Homo sapiens: one gene and its partners. The protein of the gene in region 1 purifies or fractionates together with the protein of each later gene. This does not show direct contact. Each region holds a gene or a part of one and is shown in the gene's direction. Other genes may lie near its edges.

Evidence for each region.
Region 2: the proteins of DPF3 (region 1) and SS18L1 purify together in Homo sapiens (affinity purification with mass spectrometry; 4 studies listed by BioGRID and IntAct, with this or other methods). This does not show direct contact.
Region 3: the proteins of DPF3 (region 1) and PYGB purify together in Homo sapiens (affinity purification with mass spectrometry, with the first as the bait; one study listed by BioGRID). This does not show direct contact.
Region 4: the proteins of DPF3 (region 1) and TUBA8 purify together in Homo sapiens (affinity purification with mass spectrometry, with the first as the bait; one study listed by BioGRID). This does not show direct contact.
Region 5: the proteins of DPF3 (region 1) and AGMAT purify together in Homo sapiens (affinity purification with mass spectrometry; 3 studies listed by BioGRID and IntAct, with this or other methods). This does not show direct contact.
Region 6: the proteins of DPF3 (region 1) and BICRA purify together in Homo sapiens (affinity purification with mass spectrometry, with the first as the bait; one large-scale study listed by BioGRID). This does not show direct contact.
Region 7: the proteins of DPF3 (region 1) and BCL7B purify together in Homo sapiens (affinity purification with mass spectrometry; 3 studies listed by BioGRID and IntAct, with this or other methods). This does not show direct contact.

The regions. Positions count from the first base shown.
Region 1 is NC_000014.9:72,618,102-72,621,601, reverse strand, and holds part of DPF3 (zinc finger protein DPF3), read left to right. Parts: intron 1-1,617; coding exon 1,618-1,699; intron 1,700-2,234; coding exon 2,235-2,305; 3' UTR 2,306-3,500. UniProt on the Homo sapiens protein: Belongs to the neuron-specific chromatin remodeling complex (nBAF complex).
Region 2 is NC_000020.11:62,160,769-62,164,268, forward strand, and holds part of SS18L1 (calcium-responsive transactivator), read left to right. Parts: exon of another isoform or gene 1-667; coding exon 668-812; intron 813-1,983; coding exon 1,984-2,163; intron 2,164-2,689; coding exon 2,690-2,854; intron 2,855-3,376; coding exon 3,377-3,478; intron 3,479-3,500. UniProt on the Homo sapiens protein: Transcriptional activator which is required for calcium-dependent dendritic growth and branching in cortical neurons. Recruits CREB-binding protein (CREBBP) to nuclear bodies.
Region 3 is NC_000020.11:25,282,585-25,286,084, forward strand, and holds part of PYGB (glycogen phosphorylase, brain form), read left to right. Parts: intron 1-591; coding exon 592-693; intron 694-1,519; coding exon 1,520-1,667; intron 1,668-3,500. UniProt on the Homo sapiens protein: Glycogen phosphorylase that regulates glycogen mobilization. Phosphorylase is an important allosteric enzyme in carbohydrate metabolism. Enzymes from different sources differ in their regulatory mechanisms and in their natural substrates.
Region 4 is NC_000022.11:18,124,309-18,127,808, forward strand, and holds part of TUBA8 (tubulin alpha-8 chain), read left to right. Parts: intron 1-2,045; coding exon 2,046-2,726; intron 2,727-3,500.
Region 5 is NC_000001.11:15,575,052-15,578,551, reverse strand, and holds part of AGMAT (guanidino acid hydrolase, mitochondrial precursor), read left to right. Parts: intron 1-687; coding exon 688-867; intron 868-3,500. UniProt on the Homo sapiens protein: Hydrolyzes linear guanidino acids to form urea and the corresponding amines. Displays specificity for substrates having a negatively charged head group and short chains including taurocyamine, guanidino propanoic and butanoic acids.
Region 6 is NC_000019.10:47,615,634-47,619,133, forward strand, and holds part of BICRA (BRD4-interacting chromatin-remodeling complex-associated protein), read left to right. Parts: intron 1-3,500. UniProt on the Homo sapiens protein: Component of SWI/SNF chromatin remodeling subcomplex GBAF that carries out key enzymatic activities, changing chromatin structure by altering DNA-histone contacts within a nucleosome in an ATP-dependent manner.
Region 7 is NC_000007.14:73,540,691-73,544,190, reverse strand, and holds part of BCL7B (B-cell CLL/lymphoma 7 protein family member B), read left to right. Parts: intron 1-546; coding exon 547-643; intron 644-3,500. UniProt on the Homo sapiens protein: Positive regulator of apoptosis. Plays a role in the Wnt signaling pathway, negatively regulating the expression of Wnt signaling components CTNNB1 and HMGA1.

The DNA.
Region 1 (3,500 bases):
CAATCTGATCGTATCACTCCCCTGTTGATAACTCTTCAAAAGCTTTCCTGTTGCCCCACTGACGGGTTTTAGCATGACAAAAAAAGCCCTCATTGCTTGCTCCCTGGGGATTCCAACAGCTATATCTAATTTTATCCAGGATTTCTGCACTGGTGGGGGCCAAGGTGAGATTTGATATAAAACTTTATTTTGAAAAAGGCTCATAAGCCATCCAAACAGTTTCAACAATCACCAAATAGAACAGAGCTGAAACTAGGGGGTGGGGCCAGATCACAAACAGTTTCCGAGCAGCTCCTGTATGCAAGGAAGTCTCTACAGTGGATGCAGTGATGAGGAAAACAAGATTTTGCCCCCAAGGGCTTTATAGTCCATAAAGGGGATAAAGGGTGGAAAAAAGAGGCATGTTCCAAATGAACTATTCAAGAAAACAAACATGTAGATGTCTTTTTTTTTTTTTTTTTGAGACAGAGTCTCACTCAGTTGCCCAGGCTGGAGTGCAGTGGTGCGATCTTGGCTCACTGCAACCTCCACCTCCCGGGTTCAAGAGATTCTCCTGCCTCAGCCTCCTGAGTAGCTGGGATTACAGGTGCACGCCACCATGCCTGGCTAATTTTTGTATTGTTAGTAGAGATGGGGTTTCACCATGTTGGCCAAGCTGGTCTCGAACTCCAGACCTCAAGTGAACCACGCGCCTTGGCCTCCCTAAGTGCTGGGATTACAGGCATGCGCCACAGCGCCCAGCCAAGAAAACAAACGTGATTAGATGTCTACCACATGCCAGGCATGTAACGTAAAGGAAAATGCATTTAAATGTCACAGAAAGGGAAAGTACCACAGGGCTGCACGAGGGAAGAGACAACTTCCAGTTGAGGTAGATTAGCAAAGACTTTGTGGAAAAGAAGTGCTTGAAGAAGACGTACTTGAAGGGCAGGCAGGGAATGGACATGCAGAGAAAGGGTCAGGGCCTGGGAGAGCCTCCAGGCAGAAGTAGCCATAGGTGCAAAGATATGGCCTGTGTCCTTTGAAGTTAACCACAACCCTGGGGTGCCCTGCTCTCACCCGGGCTCCAGCCTCCAGACAGTGAGGAAGCTTCTGGAAGCCGAGGGATGGCGCTACTTGCATTTTTCTACATTCTAATGAAACCCTGAAGAGGTTCTGAGGTTCATCCCAGTACAGCTGTTGGCCATTTCACAGATGGAGAGAGTGGAGTCCAGAAGAATTCAATTAAGATCTTCAAATATATAAAGTCATGGAGAATAGAGACATTTTCTGCCCTTTGGAAGCAGAGCTATTGGCTTTGGAAGTTCAGAAGAATAAGGGATCCCTTTAAATTTGGATGTGAGGTGTTAGTCACAGAAGGCGTCTTGGAGGAGGTACGAGTTGAGCAGAACCCTAAAATGGGGGTAGGATTTATATAGGCTGGGAGGTAGAGGGGGAAACTCCAGTTGTGGGAAAAGCACAGGCGTGTTCAGGGGACAGTGAGGACTCCAAGTGGGGCCTGGAAAGGGGATCCAGTGAGACCGACGTGGAAATAAGGCTGATGGGTAAGCGGGGGCCAGACATTGGCCCCGAATAATGGAATCTCTCCTCCTCTGTGCTTACTCTGTGTTCCACCAGGACCAGCTACTCTTCTGCGATGACTGTGACCGAGGCTATCACATGTACTGTTTAAATCCCCCGGTGGCTGAGCCCCCAGAAGGTAATGATGATGAAGTCAACAATAAGAACAGCAACAGATACTACTACTACTAGCACTTACTGAGCTCTCACTATGGTACAGGCCTTATGCTAATGGGTTTACATGTTCATGTCTTGTCTCATTTAATCATCACAACCCCACAAGGTAGGTACGACGACTGCCATTTTACAGATGAGGAAACTGAGGCACAGTCCAAGCAGCTGAAATTTCAACTTGAGGGCCAAGGAAGTTTTTCCCAGACATGCAGTGGAGATGACCGGGAGGTGTGAGCTTCCAGGAGAACTGGCGCAGGCCCGGCGACACTAGTTTGGAGGCATGACGCTAGTAGTGAGGGTCTTGATAAGAGTTGAGCCCATCTCCTCTGAGCACCTGCTTTCTGCTGAGCCACAGACTCTGGCACGTTTTCAGGCCTGGGACTTGGTTTCTGCATTGCCAAAGTTCAAAGGAAACAGGATTTACAAGAAGTTAGGGCCAGTGGGGTGGGGCTCCAGAGTTAGCAGAGGGGCTGCTACTAAAGCCGTCTCATTTCTTGCAGGAAGCTGGAGCTGCCACTTATGCTGGGAACTGCTCAAAGAGAAAGCCTCAGCCTTTGGCTGCCAGGCCTAGGGCCCCAGGTCACAGAATGTGACTCGCTGCTGGAGATCCTAAAGCAGAGCCCAGTTCAAACCAGAACGCGCCCTCCTCCCACATATCCAGCCAGACCAACTGCAAGGAAAAGAAATAGTCCCAGAGGGGCAGGGACACATGGAACGAAGAGGGTGAGGCATCTCCTGACCTCCCCCGATATGTACGGAACTTCAGCCAGCACCTCCTTGTCTCTACCGGAAGGAAGTTGCACTTTGGGAGAACACCTCCGGCCCCAGCCCTGTGGAACCCCTCTCACTTTTACCCTAGCACCGAGGCCCTCTCATTGGTTCCCATTTTAAGGGAAGCCATTTCCTGACCACTCATCCATTACTTGTGTGTAGTGTGGTGTTTTTTTATCTATTGTGTTCCAAGAAATCTTGGCACAGCCCCCGTGCCCCCAGCTTAGGGTCTGCATCCTGAAATTCTCACCTGAGGAACAAAGGGCTGTGGAGAAGTTGTCGTTTATGGCAAGCCTCACTGGAAACTTCTAGACTTGGGGTCTTGAAACCCTTTCTTGTTCCTTGGTGTCTGTGGAGACAAAGAGTTGCCTTCTAGAACCCCAGCAGTGGCATCCACAGCCAGCCTGGTCTTGAGCCACTGCTTAAAGTTACTAGATGGGGGCGGGGAGGGAGGGAGACGCGCAGAGACATGGGAGGAAACATTGTGGAAATGGTGCCAAGGCCCCGCCATAGCCAGTCAGTACTTGTTATCCATCGGGAGAGACTTTGCAAGAGGCCAGGCTGGTTCCTTGACCTTCAGAGCTGGGGCATCCTTTAGGTGAGACCAGTCATGGCCTATGGACAGAGGAAGACGGTCAAGCCTCTGCCTCTCAGCCCACCTGGTTCTGGAGACCTGGTTCAGCTTCTCCTGGTGGGACTGAAGAACCAGGAAGGGGAGCGAAGGCTGCCCAATCATGTGTCCGAATGCTGGATACAGGGGGCTGCAGCTTTGAGAAACCTTCAGTATTGATGCGACGCTCTGAATTCCTTTTTCCAAGTAATTTCTTCCTTCCACGTAGTGTTTGTTCGCTATTGTCTACTGAGACCTGACTGGGAATTTTAGGATGGGGGAGAGAAGATTGTTATCTAAACAAATAATTAGGGTGACATGGTCATTATTCACGACCAGGGTGGCCACATTTTAGAACTCTCAGTGCGGGGGCTGCTCTTGTCTC
Region 2 (3,500 bases), on another chromosome or scaffold:
CTCCATTGACCTGTCAAATTGCACTTCTTCACCCTGCAGACACCCACAGGTCCTGGTGGAAATTTCCTTTTCTTGGCCAGGTGTAGACAGCATGTGTGTGCAGACCTCCAGAGCTGCTGGTTGACCTTGATCTGGGAGAGTGCTGAGGGCCACTTCACACTCACTCCCTTCTGTGCGGTGTGATCCGAGGCGGGTGTGGGGTGGGGGTAGTCGGGGAAGGGGCACATGCAGCAGGAGCACGGGAAACAGGAGAGGGATCCCACCTCTGCCGAAGCTCTTGGCACGGAGGGGTCGTGGTTGGGGAGCACAGAGGCGCTGGTCACCTGCGCCCGAGGGGGACGGGGTGCGTTCAGCCTGGTGGGCCGGGAAAGGGGTTCCCTGCTGTCCCAGGAGGAGGTCCAGCTTTTCACACCCAGGCACGTGTGGATGAACTTGATACTCAGTAGGGTTGTGAACGCTCACCCAGATGCTCACTCTGCCATCTCCATCTGGGCCTGGTGCTCTGCGGTCACCTGGCTGTGACGATGGCTGCTGATTACGAACATTGACCAGGTGGCCATGATGTGTGGCGGCAAATCTCGGGTGCCCTCTCATCCCTGGCCTGGCTTGTGGAGGTCGCTCTCCGTAAATTAACCGTTTTTCCCTGAAAACTTCCTGTTGCCTGCAGCCGCCCACGCAGAACATGAACCTGGGCCCTGGAGCCCTGACTCAGAGCGGCTCCAGCCAGGGCCTGCACTCTCAGGGCAGCCTGAGTGACGCCATCAGCACGGGCCTGCCACCCTCCTCCCTCCTGCAGGGCCAGATTGGCAACGGTGAGTGCGGCGGGGGAGGAGGACGTTCCTGGCTACGAGGCCACCAAGGCAGCCCTTGGGCAGCCGGCTGCCATGGTGGGGCACCCCACCCCTCACAGGGCTGGGCATGGGACCCACTCCTCCTGGGGTAGCCACAGGTCGGCTGCCATCGCCCAGGCTCAGGGCCGCAGCGAGCGTGCCGTGCGGCTGGGCTGAGCCCCTGCTCCAGTTGTCCACTCTCTCTGACACTGTCACGTTCCATCAAATTCAAATGCAAGTTGCGGGGTTCCAGGTGGATTGTGTAATAGGAATGGAATGCTCCTGTCTTTGGATTGAGAAGCATGGATAACGTTTGGAGACCATTAACAGTAATATAACAGGCCGGGTGTGGTGGCTCAGATCTCTAATCCCAACCCTTTGTGAGGCCTAAACCAGCAGACTACTTGAGGCCAGGAGTTTGAGACCAGCCTGGGCAATATGGCAAAGCCCCATCTTTACAAAAAATAAAAATATTAGCCGGGTGTGATGGTGCACACTTGTAGTCCAAACTGTTAAATACTCGGGAGACTGAGGAGAGAGGGTCACTTGAGCTTGGGAGGGTGAGGCTGAAGTGAGCCTTGTTCATGCCACTGCCCTGCAGCCTGGGTGACAGAGCCAGACCCTGTCTCAGAAAATAATAACAAAATAACAACAAATAAACGATTCATCCTGTGCTTTGCTAGCATGTACGCTGCTTTGTTTTCTTTTCTTTTTTTTTTGAGACAGAGTCTCGCTCTAGTCGGCCAGGCTGGAGTGCAATGGGCATGATCTTGGCCCACTGCAACCTCCGCCTCCCGGGTTAAAGCAGTTCTCCGGCCTCAGCCTCCCAAGTAGCTGGGATTATAGGCACGTGCCACCACACCTGGCTAATTTTTTTGTATTTTTAGTAGAGACGGGGTTTCACCATGTTGTCCAGGCTGGTTTCGAACTCTTGACTTCAGGTGATCCACCCACCTCGGCCTCCCAAAGTGCTGGGATTACAGGCATGAGCCACTGCTCCCGGCCACTTATTTATTAGTCACTTAATCATTAATAGTGCTGTTGATAGCAACTCTTCCCAAAGTCACTTGAAGGGAAATTGGGGTGTCTTCACCTTCAGAAGTGGTGACCTGGCTCCCCAGTGCCTGACACCACTCCCTGCTCCCCATGCCAGGGCCGAGCCACGTGTCCATGCAGCAGACGGCGCCTAACACGCTGCCCACCACCTCCATGAGCATCTCTGGGCCCGGCTACAGCCACGCGGGACCCGCCTCGCAGGGCGTCCCCATGCAGGGGCAAGGCACCATCGGCAACTACGTGTCTCGGACCAACATCAACATGCAGTCCAACCCAGGTACCTACTCTGCCTCTGCAACCCCGGGGGGCCTGGGCCTGCCTCCAAGACCCTTGACACATGCACGTTGGACATGTGGTCCCGGGGAAGCTGCCCTCCTGCTGGGTGCTGGAGGGGAGGGGCCCGTGAATCGGGGCTGGCCGCTGCCTCTGAGAGCTTCCGGAGGGATGGGCGCCAGTGGGTGCACGATCAACTCCTCCTGTCCCCCAGCTTTGCGAGGGGCTGGGGTGTTTCCCATGGAGTCTCAGGGAATGCCCCAGGGAGTGGGGGCCACTGGCCCTGGGTCTGGACAGACAGCACTGGGCTCTCAGAGGTGGGGTAGAGTCGGTGCAAGCAGCGGGTCTGAGCTTGCAGGGCGTCAGTGCAGGCCACGTAGGGGAGGCGTGCCTTGCGGTGGAGGACGCTGTCCTCGTGGGGAGCACAGGAAAATAACGAGGAACCCGCCCGGGCGCAGGAGGTAGTTGGGTGTGGGAGGGAGGGCGGGAGGCTTCCCGGGGTGATGTGGGGCCTCTGTCCTGTCGTTCAGTCTCCATGATGCAGCAGCAGGCGGCCACGTCGCACTACAGCTCGGCGCAGGGCGGCAGCCAGCACTACCAGGGCCAGTCGTCCATCGCCATGATGGGGCAGGGCAGCCAGGGGAGCAGCATGATGGGGCAGCGGCCCATGGCGCCCTACCGGCCCTCCCAGCAAGGTAACGCCCGGCCGGGCCAGGTCGCGGGCACAGCTGACCGCCGCGGGTCGTGAAGTGCCAGGCTGTGTGTGCTTCTCTTCGGGGAGCCTGGGGGAGTGAGGCGGGGAGCCTGGGGGAGTGAGGCTTGGCGCCTTGGTGTTAACATTGAGTGTGGACCCTGGGGGTGAGGGCCAGGGTGTGGCCCGTGGAGGGTCTGCTGTCCCCGAGGAGTCAGTGTTGGGGGCAGGGGCGGCAGTTGTCATTAAGAGTGTCACAGGCCGGGCTCATGCCTGTAGTCCGAGCACTTTGGGAGGCCGAGGTGGGCGGATCACCTGAGGCCAGGTGCTCAAGACCAGCCTGGCCAACATGGTGAAACTCTGTACTAAAAATACAAAACATAAGTTGGATACGATGACAGCGTGGGGTGTTCTCCTCGGGTGGGTGAGGCCATTCAGCAAGGCCTTGGCTTCCCCAGTGAGCGAGCAGGTCCTCTGAGGGAGGAGGGCGCGGCCCGCACTGGCGCTGAATGTGGTTCCCCCGCAGGCTCTTCCCAGCAGTACCTGGGCCAGGAGGAGTACTATGGCGAGCAGTACAGCCACAGCCAGGGCGCCGCGGAGCCCATGGGCCAGCAGTACTACCCCGACGGTGAGCACTGGCGGCGGCCTGA
Region 3 (3,500 bases), on another chromosome or scaffold:
TGGTCAGGGAAGCCTTCCCAGGAAAGCTGAGGTCTGAAGAGGGAATGAAGAGAGAGTGAGCAGTGCTCTGGGGCAAACTGGTTCAATGCCCTGTGCTGGGGGACGGGCCCCTGGGACCTGGAAAGCAGCGTGGCTCCTGTGCAGTCTGAGATGGGCCTGGGTACAGTGAGGAGAGGTGGCCGAGTGTTTGCAGGCAGCACCTGGGTGAGGTGCTGGCTTTGAGGGGACCGCCTGCTTCAGGCAGGGAAGGTGCTGGTGGAGGGCAGCGGGAGGATGGCTTTGGGTTTTGGGTGGTGATGGGATGTTCAATGTCAGAGAACCCTGGGATCGGTGGCTGAGGGAGGGTCGTGTGTTTCCTGTGGACGTTTGAACTGGTGGGACTGGGCCATCTCGCAGAGCCCTCTCAGAAGAGGAAGGAGGGGCTGCTGGGGTAACCCTGTGGCCTGAGAGGTGGGATGCCCGGAGGGGCCGGACAAGCAGATCCCAGGGGAAAGCAGGGGCGTGGGCAACAATGGGAGGAGGGCAGGTGGCTAGGGGGCCCAGCCTCAGGAGGCTGAGGCCCACAGTGAGCGGAACCTTTACGTTCTCCAGAAAATTGGGGAGGAGTTCCTGACTGACCTGAGCCAGCTGAAGAAGCTGCTGCCGCTGGTCAGTGACGAGGTGTTCATCAGGGACGTGGCCAAGGTCAAACAGGTAGGCATGGCCCTGGCCCCAGCCCCGACCCCAGCCCTCCCACAACCAGGCAGGTAGGCCCTGGCCCTAGCCCTCCTACAGGCCCAGCACAGGTCCTGGGGTACCCACTGGGGCTTTAGTGGGGACTCAGAACAGGACTGAGGGTGAGGCTGTTAGGGTTGCCTGAGGTCTCTCCACCCCACTCAGCCTTTCAGATGAGGGCCCCGAGGAGGACAGGTCACATGGCAGATAGGTGAGTGCAGACCCCAGGCCAGCCCTGCCCGTGCCTCGACCCTCTGCCACAGGTCAGTTCTGTATGGAAGCCTCTAGAAGCCGATTCCAGCGTGGTACCCTCTTTGCCCCTGGAGAGCTGTGCAGGTGCACGAGCTGTCTGCACCGGCAGCAGCCTCTCGGCTAGACCAGGGCCAGTCACGGCAGCCTTCAAACCTCAGCGGGCTGGAGGCCCATCTACACAGCCTGTCGAGCTTGGCCTCCTCATAGAGGCCAGAACTAGTTCTCCTTGTAGTCCTTTCAGCCGTCCCGCTCCCGCGCTGCTCCGCCGCCTGCACGCCTGGCTCTGCAGTGTCTTCTGCTTGGCTCCAGGCGTGCTCCTGGGCCGGCTCCTCACTTATCCCCTACTCTTGGTGTGGACCCACCTTCAGCATCCCCCTCTCCCCTTTTCCCATGAGAAGACCCCTGGTGCAATCTCTGCCCCTCAGCTCCAGCCTGTATACCCCTGCCCCCTCCCTGCGGCACTCTTCACAGGGCACTTGAAGCAGGAAGCCGCAGGGTCAGTGGATGGAGTCCTGGTGAAGTCTCCAGCCATCTTTCCCTTTCACCCTCCCAGGAGAACAAGCTCAAGTTCTCGGCCTTCCTGGAGAAGGAGTACAAGGTGAAGATCAACCCCTCCTCCATGTTCGATGTGCATGTGAAGAGGATCCACGAGTACAAGCGGCAGCTGCTCAACTGCCTGCACGTCGTCACCCTGTACAATCGTGAGTGCCGGCATCACCTGCATGACCGCGCTGTGGGGCCCAAGGCTTGCCCTTGCCCGCCAGCTGTGCACAGACCCTGGGCCTCTGTCATGGTGGGGGCTGTGTGTGTATAGGCGTGTGCATGTGTGATGTGGCACGTTTATTTTAAGCAAAAGCCATGTTTTTCTGTGTGCCCCATGCCAGGCCTCACGTGAGCAGGTGAACAGTTAGACACCCGAAAGGCCCAGGCTGGAGTGCAGTGGTGCCATCACGGCTCACTGCAGTCTTGACCTCCAAGGGCCCAGGAAATCCTCCCACCTCAGTCCCCCAAGTAGCTGGGACTACAGGCGCACGCCACTATGCCCTTGTATTTTTTGTAGAGACAGGGTTTCACTATGTTGCCAAGGCTGGTCTCGAACTCCTGGCCTCAAGTGATCTACCCACTTCTGCCTCCCAAAAGGCTGGGGTTATAGGCATGAGCCACTGTACCGGGCCTTCAGTTTTTATTTTAAATTTAGTTATTATCTTTGTGAGACTAATCTTATTTAGAAAGATTATGCTTATTAGAGGCATTTAAAGTATACTTACAAAAATTAAGATAGTATGTGTTAAATTTACACATGCATCTTATATGTCTAAGGACATTTAATTATGAGACAAACATGAAACAGAGACCCCCAAAGGTCAATGTGAATATTTGCTAGGTTTAATAGATAATGAAACCTTAAGGAAAAACTAGGTTTCTAAAATTTTGTAATTTAATAAAGTAGGTATTTTAAAAACCAAAGGAACCACACATCCTCCTTTCCGATACAAAGCTCCTCCCGGGAATAGATCTCCTATTCCCAATGAGTAAGCCTCGATGGGGTGGAGGATCTGGGTGCGTTTGAGACACACATGGTAGGACAGAGGCTAGAGGCCACCCCCGCTGAGGACCCCTCTGCCGTGTGGGCACCACGGGAGGTGCTTCCCGGGGCTGTGGCTTCCCGGCTCCGAGATGGTGCACGGGAACTTTGCATCATCTTTCCTTGCCCCATTTTCCTCCTGCAGTTGTGATGCTCTGTGTTCCCCTGGTGGTGACCCGGAGTCCTCCGCTTGCACAACGCTTGGTCCTATTGATGAGCGGCAGTGAGACTCGCGGGTCACCCCCTCCCTTCCTCCCGCTCCACCACCCCCACAGTCAGTTGCTGCATCGTCTTTTAGTGTTGGCCTTCAGGCTTTCCTCCTCCCGCTCCGCCACCCCCAGTCGTCAGTTGTTGCATCGTCTTCTATTGTTGGCCTTCAGGCTTTCCAGATGCTCCACTTCTGCTTGGTTGGTTCATTCGTTTTGAACGACACGCTGTGATTTCCAGCCGTTCACAGGAGGCAGCCAACAGGCTGGTGCTCGCTCCCACTGGTCTTCCCCCTTGCTCCATGTCTGTGTGTGCACGCATAAATGTATATGTGTGCATGCCTGTAAACATGTGTGCTTGTGTCTGTGCATGTACCTGTGGTGGACCTGCGTCTCCTTCCCCCACTGTCAGAGCTCACAGCATCAATACTTTGCCCTTCCTCCTGTCCCCAGCTGTATCAGTTTGAGTCTGGTGGTGAGTATGTTCACTGCTTCTCACGGTCCTTCTGCAAAGTGCTGCCCAGCCCTGCTGGCCACTTTGTGTCTAGTTCATGACTGGCTCATGGGAACAACCTTCCCGAGTTCTTGCTTGTTCAAAACGGCCTGGACCCTTCACCATGAAGGTCGGTTTGGCTGAAGATGCCAGTCTTAACTCCACTTCCTTCCCCCAGTGCTTTTTAGGGCCCTACCGGGCACTGTCTGGAGGGTGGGTGTGTGTGCAGAAGTCTGGCGATGTCTGAGTT
Region 4 (3,500 bases), on another chromosome or scaffold:
GATCAGGAGGGCAGGGGACGGGTGGGTCAGGCTGGAGTGGACAGGCTTGGCCCCATGCCTCTTTGATCAGGCTAGGGAGAGGCATCTGACCCCTGGCTATAGGATGGAGCTCCTAAGGTTTGGGAATTTCTGCTTAAATTCTGTAAGAAGCATGCACAGGGGTGATGCCCCTTCCTCTGTGTTGGCATCATAGACTGTGTTCCAGGCTGAGGCCCTACTCATACTCATTGATACTCTCTGTTAGTATCTGGGGAAGGTTCCGGGTATAAGGCAGGATGAGGTCTCTGCTGGTCGGAAACACAGGTTAACAAAGCATTTAACTTGGAAGAGGAGAGGAAGAGATTGTTGATACATTTGGGCACTTACAAGTGCCATTACAGATGTTAAGCACATTCCTTCATTTAATCCTTAATAATTAGACTTAGGAGGTGTCCTTCCTGTGCTTTACAGATGAAGAAATTGAGGGCCAGGGTGGTTCAATATCTTAGCCTGGGTCACACAGCTAAAAAGTGGCAGAGCTGGGGTTTGAACTCAGTTGGACTACAAAGCTCTTGAGTTGTAGGTTGTGTCACTTTATTTATTTAAGCTTCCATTTGCTTATCTGTATAATGGAAAAGCTTGGACCTGATCACATGTTCTTTCCCTGGGAGGTAAGGGTGCCAAACTTTTGCATATATTCACTTTTTCTGTTTAGAGGAGGGCTTGTCAGGGTCATTGGCCTCAAAGCTGTCTGTGGTCCCCAAAAGTTCAAATCACACCCAGTGGGAAAATCCTGTGATTCTATGAATTCTCTGGTGAGAGCTGACATCCGTGCTTACAACGTATCAGGCCCTTGCTCAGCATGTTATGCTATTTTATTTAATTGTCACAATAACCTTATGAGGATTTTCTATTGTCCCCATTTTCACTAAGAAGGAACAGAAGTGGCCAGGCATGGTGGCGCATGCCTGTAATCCCAGCACTTTGGGAGGCTGAGGGGGGTGGATCACGGGGTCAAGAGATTGAGATCATCCTGGCCAACATGTTAAAACCCCATCTTTACTAAAAATACAAAAAATTAGCTGGGCATGGTAGCATGCGCCTGTAGTCCCAGCTACTCAGGAGGCTGTGGCAGGAGAATTGCTTGAACCCAGAAGGCGGAGTTTGCAGTGAACCAAGATTGCACCACTGCACTCCAGCCTGGCGACAGAGCGAGACTCTGTCTCAAAAAAAAAAAAAAAAAAAAAGGAACAGAAGTTTGGAGAGGTTCAGTAACTTGCTCAAGTTCTTACAACCAAGAAATGGCAAAGTTGATATTAGAACTCAGGCTTTCTGGCTCCATGTACCTTTCTGAAATTGGTGCCCTGAGTCACCTTCCAAGGTTGGGTTGAAGTGTGTCGGCAGCAGTTCCCACAAAATCAAATGACAAGAGCAGGGAAAGTGGGCAAGGAGTTGGGGCCCTCAAAGGGCAAAGTCACCATCCACTGTGGTTCTGAAACTCTCATTCCCTGTTCAACCAAGTTACTGGGCTGAAACCTTCATGTACCTAGAGGCGTGTGCCCCTGCAGCTTGTCATCCTATTAAAAAAAATAGAGACAGAGACTTGCTCTGTCATCCAAGCCAGAGTGCAGTGGTGTGATCATAGATTTCTGCAGCCATGAGCTCCTGGGCTCAAGTGATCCTCCCACCTCAGCATCCCAAGTAACTGGGACTACAGGTGTGCATCACCACGCCCAGTTAACTTTTAAAATTTTTTGTAGATGCGAGGTCTCACTATGTTGCCCATGCTGGTTGTGAACTCCTGGCCTCAATGGATCCTCCTGCCTCAGCTTCCCAAACTGCTGGGATTACAGGCATTGAGTCACTGTGCCTGGCCCCATCCCATATTTTAGCCACTCCTCCAAAGATCAATACAACTCCTTTTGTTTCCTTACTTCTTCAAAGCTGTTTTGATTTCATCCACAAAAAAATATGAGGCAGACAGAGTGGGCGGTCTGGCTTTTTTACTGTGGGGTGTTCTCGGAAACTTGTCTTCATGATTTCTTCTCATGTCCTGCTCTCCCTAGACAGATGCTTGCTCTGGCCTGCAGGGCTTCCTGATTTTCCACAGTTTTGGTGGGGGCACTGGCTCCGGCTTCACTTCTCTGCTGATGGAACGCCTCTCCCTGGATTATGGCAAGAAATCCAAGCTGGAGTTTGCCATCTACCCAGCCCCCCAGGTCTCTACTGCAGTGGTGGAGCCCTACAACTCCATCCTGACCACCCACACCACACTGGAACATTCAGATTGTGCTTTCATGGTGGACAACGAAGCCATCTATGACATCTGCCGCAGGAACCTTGACATTGAGCGCCCTACCTATACCAACCTCAACCGCCTCATCAGTCAGATTGTGTCCTCAATCACTGCTTCTCTCCGCTTTGACGGGGCCCTCAATGTGGACCTCACTGAGTTCCAGACCAACCTGGTGCCCTACCCCCGCATCCACTTCCCGCTGGTCACCTACGCGCCCATCATCTCTGCCGAGAAAGCCTATCACGAACAGCTCTCTGTGGCCGAGATAACCAGCTCCTGCTTTGAGCCCAACAGCCAGATGGTGAAGTGCGACCCGAGACATGGCAAGTACATGGCCTGCTGCATGCTCTACCGGGGCGACGTGGTGCCCAAGGATGTGAATGTCGCTATTGCTGCCATCAAGACCAAGAGGACCATCCAGTTTGTAGACTGGTGTCCCACAGGCTTCAAGGTGAGAGCTGATGACTTAGGAAGGGGAGAGAGGACTAGAGAAGCAGAGGGAGGTGACCAAGGATATGCAATTCCATGGGCGCTTCAGGCTTTATGTGATGATAAGGGGAGGGGGACTTCAACCAAATGTAACATGAATGGAATTCAGCTTTGGTTGAGACACAAGTGCTGTCAAAGTTTTGTCTGTTTAGGCCATTTTAGAAAAGTTTGGTGCTATTTTAAATTGATTAATTGGTTAATCACCTTTGGTTTTGTTTACTGAGCAACAAGTAATGATTTGGTATTGGCCCAAATCTACTCACCTGAAGTACAGTGCTTTTGGTGTTCATGATTTGGTTCAATTTGCCTAACGTTAGTTTTGTTTTTTTTTTTTTTTTTGAGACGGAGTCTCACTCTGTCACCCAGGCTGGAGTGCAGTGGCACCATCTGGGCTCACTGCAAGCTCCACCTCTCAGGTTCACGCCATTCTCCTGCCTCAGCCTCCCAAGTAGCTGGGACTACAGGCGCCCGCCGCCACGCCCAGCTAATTTTTTGTATGTTTAGTAGAGATGGGGTTTCACCGTGTTAGCCAGGATGGTCTCGATCTCCTGACCTCGTGATCCGCCCGCCTTGGCCTCCCAAAGTGCTGGGATTACAGGCGTGAGCCACTGTGCCCGGACTTTTTTTTTTTTTTTTTTTTTGTGAAACGGAGTGTCGCTCTGTCACCAAGGCTGGAGTGCAGTGGCGCGATCTAGGCTCACTGCAAGCTCCACCTCCTGGGTTCACGCCATTCTCC
Region 5 (3,500 bases), on another chromosome or scaffold:
AGGCTAAGGTGGGTGGATCACCTGAGGTCAGGAGTTCGAGACCAGCCTGGCCAACATGGTGAAACCCCGTCTCTCCTAAAAATACAAAAATTAGCCAGGTGTGGCGGTGCGCACCTGTAATCCCAGCTACTCGGGAGACTGAGGCAGGAGAATTGCTTGAACGTGGGAGGTGGAGGTTGCAGTGAGCTGAGATCGCGCCACTGCACTCTAGCCTAGGTGACAAAGTGAGACTCCATCTCAAAAGAAAAAAAAAAGAGGGGAGGAAGTCCGGACCCAAGATGAGTTGCCACCTTCTTAGTTCTGGTCCTCGTACCCTCTAGGCAGAATGGCTCTCAGATAGACGTGTATGACAAGACCCCAATGGAACAGACCCAAATCCCTTGCTTTTAGAGCGTGCCAAGGCCAGTCTTCTGGACAGAGCAATTCAAAAGGTGCTAGCGTGAGCTGCTGTTTCCCACTCTTGCTTTAGCAAAGCTTCTCTCTGATTCCAACTCCATCAGTCAGCTTTGACCCTGCTTCCTTACCACTCATTGTCCCTCCCTTCCTCACCTGTAAAATAGGATAGTTCCCTCTTCATGGAGATGGAGGGTCAAGTGTCATGTGCACACAGAGCTGAGCATGGGGCTGGCAAACAGGAAATGCCCTGTAAATGCTGCCAGACAGAAACCTCAGTCCCTGTCTCTGCAGGGCTTCCGGGTAGTCCTGGCTGAAGACTGCTGGATGAAGTCGCTGGTTCCTCTGATGGGGGAAGTCAGGCAGCAGATGGGAGGCAAACCCATTTATATCAGCTTTGATATTGACGCTCTGGATCCTGCCTATGCGCCAGGGACAGGGACACCTGAAATTGCTGGTCTCACTCCTAGTCAGGTAAGGAGATTCCACCAGTGAAGATCCTGGGGGTGGAGACACTTAACACCCATTTTCCTGGGACTTGAAGCGAATCTTTAGGAATCAGGATAGGATTTTTGTTTGTTTGTTTGAGACGGAGTCTCACTCTGTCGCCCAGGCTGGAGTGCAGTGGTGCGATCTCGGCTCACTGCAACCTCCGCCTCCCAGGTTCAAGCGATTCTCCTGCCTCAGCCTCCTGAGTAGCTGAGATTACAGGCACATGCCACTACGCCCGGCTAATTTTTGTATTTTTAGTAGAGATGGGGTTTCACCATGTTGGTCAGGCTGGTCTTGAACTCCTGATCTCGTGATCCACTCACCTCGGCTTCCCAAAGTGCTGGGATTACGGGTGTCAGCCACCGCGCCTGGCTGCCAAGGTAGGATTTTAAGAGCAGAGCACCTAGGCCTTTTCTGTTCTCTGGGCTGAGGATAAGTTTGAATACCCTCTTACTGAAGGGTGATTGATTTTGGCAAGGGCCTTCATTTCCTATCTGGGATATAATAGTCCCTTATTTTGTCCTTTATTTGCTCTTCCTGCCTTCAGTTCATCTGTCATGAAAACAACAGTTCATAGGAACAACATTATAGTATCCTCTCTTAAGAACACTAAACTTGGCCGGGCACGGTGGCTCACGTCTATAATCCCAGCACTTTGGGAGGCTGAGGTGGGTGGATCACGAGGTCAGGAGATCGAGACCATCTTGGCTAACACGGTGAAACTCCGTCTCTACTAAAAATACAAAAAAATTAGCCGGGCGCGGTGGCGGGTGCCTGTAATCTCAGCTACTCAGGAGGCTGAGGCAGGAGAATGGCATGAACCCGGGAGGCAGAGCTTGCAGTGAGCCGAGATAGAACCACTGCAGTCTGGCCTGGGCGAAAGAGTGAAACTCCATCTCAAAAAAAAAAAAAAAAAAAAAAAAAAAGAACACTAAACTTGGCCAGGTGTCGTGGCTCACGCCTGGAATCCCAGCACTCTGGGAGGCCGAGGCGGGTGGATCACAAGGTCAGGAGTTCGAGACCAGCCTAGCCAAGATGGTGAAACCCTGTCTCTACTAAAAGTACAAAAATCAGCCCGGCACGGTGGCAGGCGTCTGTAATCCCAGCTACTTGGGAGGCTGAGGCAGGAGAATTGCTTGAACCCTGGAGGCGGAGGTTGCAGTGAGCTGAGATCGTGCCACTGTACTCCAGCCTGGGCAACAGAGCAAGACTCCACCTCAAAAAAAAAACCAACCAACCAACCAAACAAAAACACTAAACTTGGCCGGGCGCAGTGGCTCACACCTGTAATCCCAGCACTTTGGGAGGCCAAGGCATCAGGCGGGTGGTTCACCTGAGGTAGGGAGTTTGAGACCAGCCTAACATGGAGAAACCCCATTTCTACTAAAAATACAAAATTAGCCGGGCATGGTGGCGCATGCCTGTAATCCCAGCTACTCGGGAGGCTGAGGCAGGGGAATCACTTGAACCTGGGAGGCTGAGGTTGTGGTGAGCCGAGATCATGATATTGCACTCCAGTCTGGGCAACAAGAGTGAAACTCCATCTCAAAACAAACAAAAACACTAAACTTATCTTTTTAGGGTTAAATTTAAATAAAAGTGCATACAACGGGCCAGGCGCGGTGGCTCAGGCACTATCCTCAGCACTTTGGGAGGCCAGGGTGGATGGATCGTTTGAGCCCAGGAGTTTCAGCCCAGCCTGGGCAACATAGTGAGATCCCATCTTTACTAAAAATAAAAATAAAAATTAGTCTGGTGTGCTAGTGTGCACCTGTAGTCCCAGCTACTAGGGAGGCTGGGGCAGGAGGATCAACTGAGCCTGGCAGGTCAAGCCTTCAGTGAGCCGTGATCATACCACTGCACTATAGCCCGGGTGACAGAGACCCTGTCTCAAAAATAAATAAATAAATAAATAAATAAATAAATAAATAAATAAAAGTGCATGTGATGGCACAATTACCTGCCAAGGTAAGCTCAAGAGTTTTAGAAACACCCAAATAAAGCTCCAATAATGTGTGCTGGGAGTAAATGCACGGGGGCAGAATGGTTATGACTAGAATCTCCCCAAGGGCAGGACCTATGTATTGTTCCCTACCTTGTCCTTGGAGCCTAGGACAGTGCCTAATACAAATAGTAGGCACTCAAAGACATTTGAGAGTAAATGAATGAAGACTGCTTAAACCTAATCAAGTACCTTACATCCTCTAAGATCTTAAAGGAGGGTGGCCATAACTCTCTCTCTTGAAATGGCTGTAACCATCCTCTCTTCTCATGAGGGATTTCTGAAACACATTCCTCATCCCTCTGCTTAGCAACCTTCTGGGCTTTTCACCTGCAGGATGGGAACCCTTTCAGACAAGGTCACTCTCTTCCCATCAGTCTCCCTCACTTACTCTGTCTTCTGGCCACATCTTACTACCTGAACTTTTCCCATCTTGGTGCCTTTGCCTGTGTTTTTCCCTCTGCCTGGCCTATCCCTTGAACTGGGTATTTCCACCTTGGGGAAGCCTTACCCACCTCTCCAGGCTATTACCTATGCTGATACCATTCTGGGCTTGCTTTCCTTGAAGCCCTTGGTGCATGACATTGAAACGATTGGTTTCCTTGTCTCCATC
Region 6 (3,500 bases), on another chromosome or scaffold:
AAACACCCATAAAGTGCCAAGGTAGCCTTGTCAGTCAGTGTCGGTGTCACCTGTCATTCTTAGGCAGTTTATTTCTCCTGGGGACTGTGACCCCCTTAATTGGCAGGTGTTGGATGGAATGCTGGCTTCTCTGCTTAATTGCAGTGTGACCCTGGGCAAGCAATTCCTTTGCATGGCCTCAGTTTCCTTGTCTATAAAATGGGCCCATGATGCCTCCCTCGTAGGGTCTGCTGTGAGGCTGAACGAAGCAATGTTCTGCCAAGCTGGGCAGGCAGTCGCTTTCAGGAACTAGCAAATGATGCTGCTGTTGTTTTCACTATGATTACTGTTCTCCTGCGGGACTCATGCTGACTCCTCCGCTCTGAAAGGTCCCCATTGTCTTCCTGAAAGGCACACAAGGAACAATGTTGGCATTCTAAACTGCATGGCAGCAGAGGGCACGCAGCAGGCTGCTCCGGCATGAGGCACACAGGGCTTCCCTGTACCGTGCCTCAGTTTCCCCAACTGGAAGAGTGGGCATGAGAGGAAACCCACCTCAGGCATGCTTAGTGTTCAGCACAGTGCCTGGGGTATAGCAAGCGCCCAAAAAATGTGAGTGGCTGTGATTGGAATAATTATTATTAAGTAGCAGAGTCTCCCATAGGATTAGATACCCAAGTTGCTATGGCCTTTCCCCCAAACCCTAGGCAATCAGTGTTGGCATTTTAAATGGAAGGCACAGGGCTGGCATTGGTGGCTCATGCCTGTAATCCCAGCACTTTGGGAGGCCAAGGCAGGCGGATCACTTGAGGTCAGGAGTTCGAGACCAGCCTGGCCAACATGGTGAAGCCCTGTCTCTACTAAAAATACAAAAAAATTAGCCAGGCGTGGTGGCGCATGCTTGTAATCCCAGCTACTCAGGAGGCTGAGGCATGAGAATCGCTTGAAACTGGGAGGCGGAGGTTGCAGTGAGCTGAGATCGCACGATTGCACTCCAGCCAGGGCGACAGAGCAAGACTCTGTCTCAAAAAAAAAAAAAGGAAGACAATGCCCAAATACCCACTGGGCCACAATTTCCTCTTCTGTAACAGAGCTTCCCCGCTTTGGGTGTTGTGACGCTTCAATGAGTGAAGACTTGGGAAGCTTTTTAGGATAGGACCTGGCTCTCAGGAATGCTCAGTGAAGCTTCACTTTGATTCTTATTATCTTTTATTTTTATTAATTTTTTTTTTTTGAGACAAGAATCTCTCTCTGCGCCCAGGCTGGAGTACAGTGGTGTGATCTTGGCTCACTGCAACCTCCGCCTCCCAGGTTCAAGTGATTCTTATGTCTCAGCCTCCCGAGTAGCTATGGCTACAGATGTGGGCCACGACACCCAGCTAATTTTGTATATTTTGTAGAGCTGGTGTTTGGCCATGTTGGCCAGGCTAGTCTCGAACTCCTGGACTCAAGCAATCCACCCGCCTCAGCTTCCCAAAGTGCTGGGATTACAAACATGAGCCACCATACCAGGCCTATTATTTTTAAATATTTTATTTTATTTTATAGAGACAAGGTCTTGCTATATTGCTCAGGCTGGTCTCCAACTTCTGGGCTCAACAGTCCTCCGACTTTGGCCTCCCAAAGTCCTGGGATTATAGGCATGAGCAACTGCACCTGGCCGTCTTTGTTTATTATTATTTTGTTTTCTTTTTTCTTTTTTTTTGCCATCTAGACTCGGCTTGGCAGATTTATTTATTGTTATTTTAACTTATATTTTTTATTTTTTTGAGACAGGCTCTCACTGTGTCACCCAGACTGGAGTGTAGTGGCGCCATATCGGCTCACTGCAACCTCCGCCTCCCAGGCTCCAGCAGTTCTCGTGCCTCAGTCTCCCGAGTAGCTGGAATTACAGGTGCCTGCCACCACACACGGCTAATTGTTGTATTTTTAGTAGAGAAGGGGTTTCACCATGTTGGCCAGGCTGGTCTCGAACTCCTGAACTCAGGTGATCTGCTCACCTAGGCCCCCCAAAGTGCTGGGATTACAAGCATGAGCTATGCACCTGGCCTTTTTAACTTTTTGTTAAGGAAATTTTAAAGCACTCACCGAGAGTTGAGAAAATAGCACAACCACCCCTGTGTAACCATCACCAGCTTCTGCAAAAATTTTCTGCTGATCTGATCTTTTTTTTTTGGCCATTACCTACTGTGCACATATATTTTTTCTTTTTTGCCAAGGTATTTTAAAGCAAATTCCAGATATCATATCATTTCCATTGTATTATTATTGTTATTAATGGTGGTGTTATTTCTGGGATCCAGAATTTGTTTCAGCACCTCCAGAGTCTGTCCTGTTCTATGAAGAAAGTGGCATTAGGCCCATTTCATAGGTTGGGAAACTGAGGCAGCAGGGAGTGGGCTTTGATCAGGTGGTCCTTTTTCTGTGATCCCCTTTTTGGGACTGTGGTGAATTCCCTGTCTTGGCCACACCAAGCCTCAAACCCTGTGGGTTGTTTCTGATTACACAGGTTTGGGGGTCACACCTGGGTGCATGCAGTGTGGGGTACAGGTTCTGTTACTCTGTGCAGAAATCGTCCTCATAAAGGAAGAGTTGAAGTGGGGCTGGCAGCAGGGGATGGACCCCTAGGATGACCCTGGAGGTGATGGGCAACTGGGTCAGCTGTGTGGGTTAAAGTCCTGTTTCTGCTCCTTCTAACCCTGTGACTTGGTGGCAAGCTATTTCCCTCCTTTAGTCCAGGTTAGAGAACTGGAAGTACAGGAGAGATAATAAATACTTATTTGGATGACCTTATTGTTAAATAAGGTCTAGCGTGGAAAAGATGTTTTGCAAGTGCCTGGCTCAGAGTAAACGGTCACTATTGTTAGTGTTGTTATTGCTTCTGTGTATACTCTTGAGGTTGGGGACAAAAATGCTGTTTCTAGGATTGCAGAGGAAGGGTTGATGCCCCTTGACCCCCCAGCCCGGCCCCGCTACCTTCATTCCCTTGCCATGCCCACCCTGTCCCTCTGCACTCTCCCTTTGAAGTGCTTGCCTGTTTAGGGGGCTGCCAACTTCAGCGTGGCCCCTCTCAGCCTCTTATGTCCTCTGTGTCCCAGCCTGGTAACCTTGGGAACGGAGTGAGCGGGAATATCTGTCTGAGGCTGTGAGACCCTTGCTAAAGACCCTTGGGGTCCTTGAGGGAGCGCCTGGTGGCCTCTGCTGCCTGGAGGCAGAGGATGGCCCAGTGTCCAGGGACACCTGCAGGTGAAGCTCCCCGGAGCCACCTTTCCAGAGGCTGGATGCCAACTCTCGTCCACCGTGTGAGGCTGGGCGGGCAGATGTCCACAGCGCCTGCCTCACAGGGTGGCTGTGACAGTTAGCTGGACTATAACCTCCATCACCTGGCACGCATAGTGTCTCATTGACCTCAGACACTTGGCGCCCGGCCTGGGTGCGGGAGTTCTCCCTGGGAGAAGTCTGAGCTCACAGCTTAGCAAGCTCTTGCTGTACTGCGGAATTTCTCTCCCTAGAACGTGCGC
Region 7 (3,500 bases), on another chromosome or scaffold:
TCTTGGCCTCCCAAAGTGCTGGGATTACAGGCGTGAACCAGTGCGCCCGGCTGGGGTGGTCGTTTTGAATGGATGAGGATGACGGATCAGGAATAGAGCCAGCCTGGGCCCATTTGTCCTGTCACTGTCTGTGTTACATGAGGTTCCTTCTTCTCTCACTTTTTCCCCACTCTGCTACTGAAACAGGAATCTTTCTCAAATGAGTGTTTTGTATTTCTTGCCCATTCGTATAGAGAAGGGTTGCCTGGCGCAATTTGATCAGGGCAGGAGAGGGATACTATGGGATGTTCTAGTCGAAGTGTATGTATCTGCCTGTTGCTTATGATTCACAGTATTCCTGCTGGAAGGGTTCATTTTTCTGAGGCTTGAGGAGAAGTTGCTTGTCCAGGATTCTGTTCTTCCTTGGGTCCTTGGATTCTCACGCTGCTGTCGTTTTTCCTGTTCAGTCCTAATCCAGACCTCTGTGGTCTGTCACATAGCACCCTCCTCCCTCTCTGTGAGTCTCCTGCTTGGCTCTGTCATATTCCTCTTTTTTTCCTTTTCTAGAAAGAAAAGTCAAAATCGAACAGTTCAGCAGCCCGAGAACCTAATGGCTTTCCTTCTGATGCCTCAGCCAATTCCTCTCTCCTTCTTGAATTCCAGGGTGAGTTGCATCTCTGTGTCTTCCTTGCAGGAGAATGAAAACTTGGATGAATGCATTAATAAGAAGAATTGGCCAGGTGCAGTGACTCACACCTGTAACCTCAGCACTTTGGGAGTCTGAGGCGGGCAGATCACCTGAGGTCAGGAGTTCAAGACGAGCCTGGCCAATATGGTGAAACCCAGTCTCTACTAAAAATACAAAAAGTTAGCTGAGCGTGGTGGCGCGTGCCTGTAATCCCAGCTACTCGGGGGTCTGAGACAGGAGAATCGCTTAAACCCAGGAGGTGGAGGTTGCGGTGAGCCGAGATTGCGCCACTGCACTCCAGCCTGGGCTGCAGAGTGAGACTCCGTCTCAAAAAAAAAAAAAAAGAATTCTGTGTATCAATTCAGTGCCTGCTGTTTCGCTGGTATTTTGCGAGGCACTTGACCTAAATCTTTTCATTTAAACTTCACGATAACTCTGCAAGATAGGTAATGGTATTCTCATTTTCCAGTTAAGGAAACTGAGGCTCAGAGAGGTTAAGTTACGTGTCTAAAGTTACATAACTTGTAAGTGACAGACTCCATGTCAGGTCCTGGTTGTCCGAATCAGAAGCTTTTTTTTAGATTGTACTTCATTTTTTATTTTTTATTTTTTGTAGAGACAGAGTCTGGCTATGTTGTCCAGGCTGGTTGTGAACTCCTGGCCTCAAGCAGTCCCCCAGCCTTGACCTCCCAAGGTACAAGCATGAGCCACTGCACCTGGCCTAGACTGTATGTTTTATCATAGTCGCTTAGAGTAGGCTACCCAAAGCCGAAGCTTCTGCTTACCCACTGTTAGGACATGTTCTGCCTCCTAAACCAATCCCGCCGGATCATCACCGTAGTCATGATACTGCCTTTTACACCTACCTGCTAGGTACTGTCTACGAAGCACTTTTACTTTACTTTCTCATTTTTACCCATGTATCAGCCTGTGATATAAACCAGGCAGTTATTATCATCCCTATTTAAGGAAACTGATGCTCAGGGAGGAACAGTGTTTTGTCTAAGCTCAAAAGTGACAGTTTTATTCATTTGGTGACAAAATGCTACTTCCATTTTAGTGTGGGTATTAAAGGTCTTTATAGGAGTCAAGACTAGCATGAGTTTATGACTTTCTCTTCAAAACCAGATTGGAGCTAACCCAGCGTGTAGTTATTCCTTCCCCACCTCTTTCCCAGGCCCCACCAAGGTCAACCATGTGCTGTTGGAAAGGGAACACCAACGTGTGTTCAGTAGTCAGAAGGCTCTGGGAGACATATGAGGCTCCATTTCCTCAGTCTGGCCACCATCTCCTCCTTTTCATTTAGTAAACACTTAATGAACTCCCACTGTATGCAGGTACCGTGCGTTGCACTGGGGAGTCAAGGACAAGTGAGCCACAGAGCCTGTCCACAGAGGCTCATGGGAGGAAGCACGTGTGCGAAATGATAAATGCAGGCGTGCACAGGCTATCACAGGAGAGTAAGAGAGGGTGGGCATTTCCACCTATGCGAGCCAGGGAGGTAGGGCTCCGCGGAAGAAGTGATGTCGGGGCTGTGTTGGGAGGTCTGAGGCTTTCCAGGACAAGAGAAGGCAGCCTAGCCAAGGAACAGCTGGGCAGAAGCACCCATGCATGACGAAGCTCTTGGGTTAGGGTCCAGTCTGCCTGGAGCTGAGGATGCTTGTAGGAGAACAGTAGGCACTGAGGCCAGAGATCAGAAAGGACTTCCTATGTTGCGATAAGGCCAGCTCCTGCCTCTCCTAAGAAGTACTGGGTATGGCTGGGCGTGGTGGCTCATGCCTGTAATCCCAGCACTTTGGGAGGCTGAGGCAGGTGGATTACCTGAGGTCAGGAGTTCGAGACCAGCCTGACCAACATGGTGAAACCCCGTCTCTAATAAAAATACAAAATTACCCAGGCGTGGTGGCGCAAGCCTGTAATCCCAGCTACTCAAGAGGCTGAGGCAGGAGAATCAGTTGAACCCAGGAGGCAGAGGTTGTGGTGAGCTGAGATAGCACCATTGCACTCCAGCCTGGGCAACAAGAGCGAAACTCGGTCTCAAAAAAAAAAAAAAAAAAAGTACTGGGTATGACATTTCTCCCTTAGGCAGCAGTGGAGCGTCGAAGGGTTTAGAAAGGTCTCTCTGGCAGTGGTTTGCAGTTCAGTTTAAGGTACGTGAGACTGGAGGCAGGGCAGTGAGGTATGTGGCTGTTGCAGGAGGCCAGGCTGGAGATGATGAGGCTTGAACTGAAGCAGTAGGAGAGGAAGGAATGAGCACAAATGATACCAGAGCAGGAGGGGGAAACACTTTGGTGACTGGCTACTGTAGGTGCAGCGGAGGAATGCATTGGTGACTCTTACTTTTTTTCTTTTTTTTTAATTTTAATTTTTATTTTTTGAGACGGAGTCTCGCCATGTCACCCAGGCTACAGTGCAATGGCACGATCTCAGCTCACTGCAACCTCCACCTCCCGGGTTCAAGCGATTTTCCTGCCTCAGCCTCCCAAGTAACTGGGATTACAGGCGCGTGCTATCATGCCCGGCTAATTTTTGTATTTTCAGTAGAGACGGGGTTTCACCATGTTGGCCAGGCTGGTCTCAAACTTCTGACCTCAAGTGATCCGCCCACCTTGGCCTCCCAAAGTGCTGGGATTACAGGCGTGAGCCACTGCACTCGGCCTGGTAACTCTTTTTTTTTTTTTTTTTTTTTTTTTTGAGACAGAGTCTCGCTCTGTTGCTCAGGCTGGAGTGCAATGGCGCGATCTCGGCTCACTGCAAGCTCTGCCTTCTAGGTTCATGCCATTCTTCTGCCTCAGCCTCCTGAGTAGCTGGAACTACAGGTGCCCACCACCAC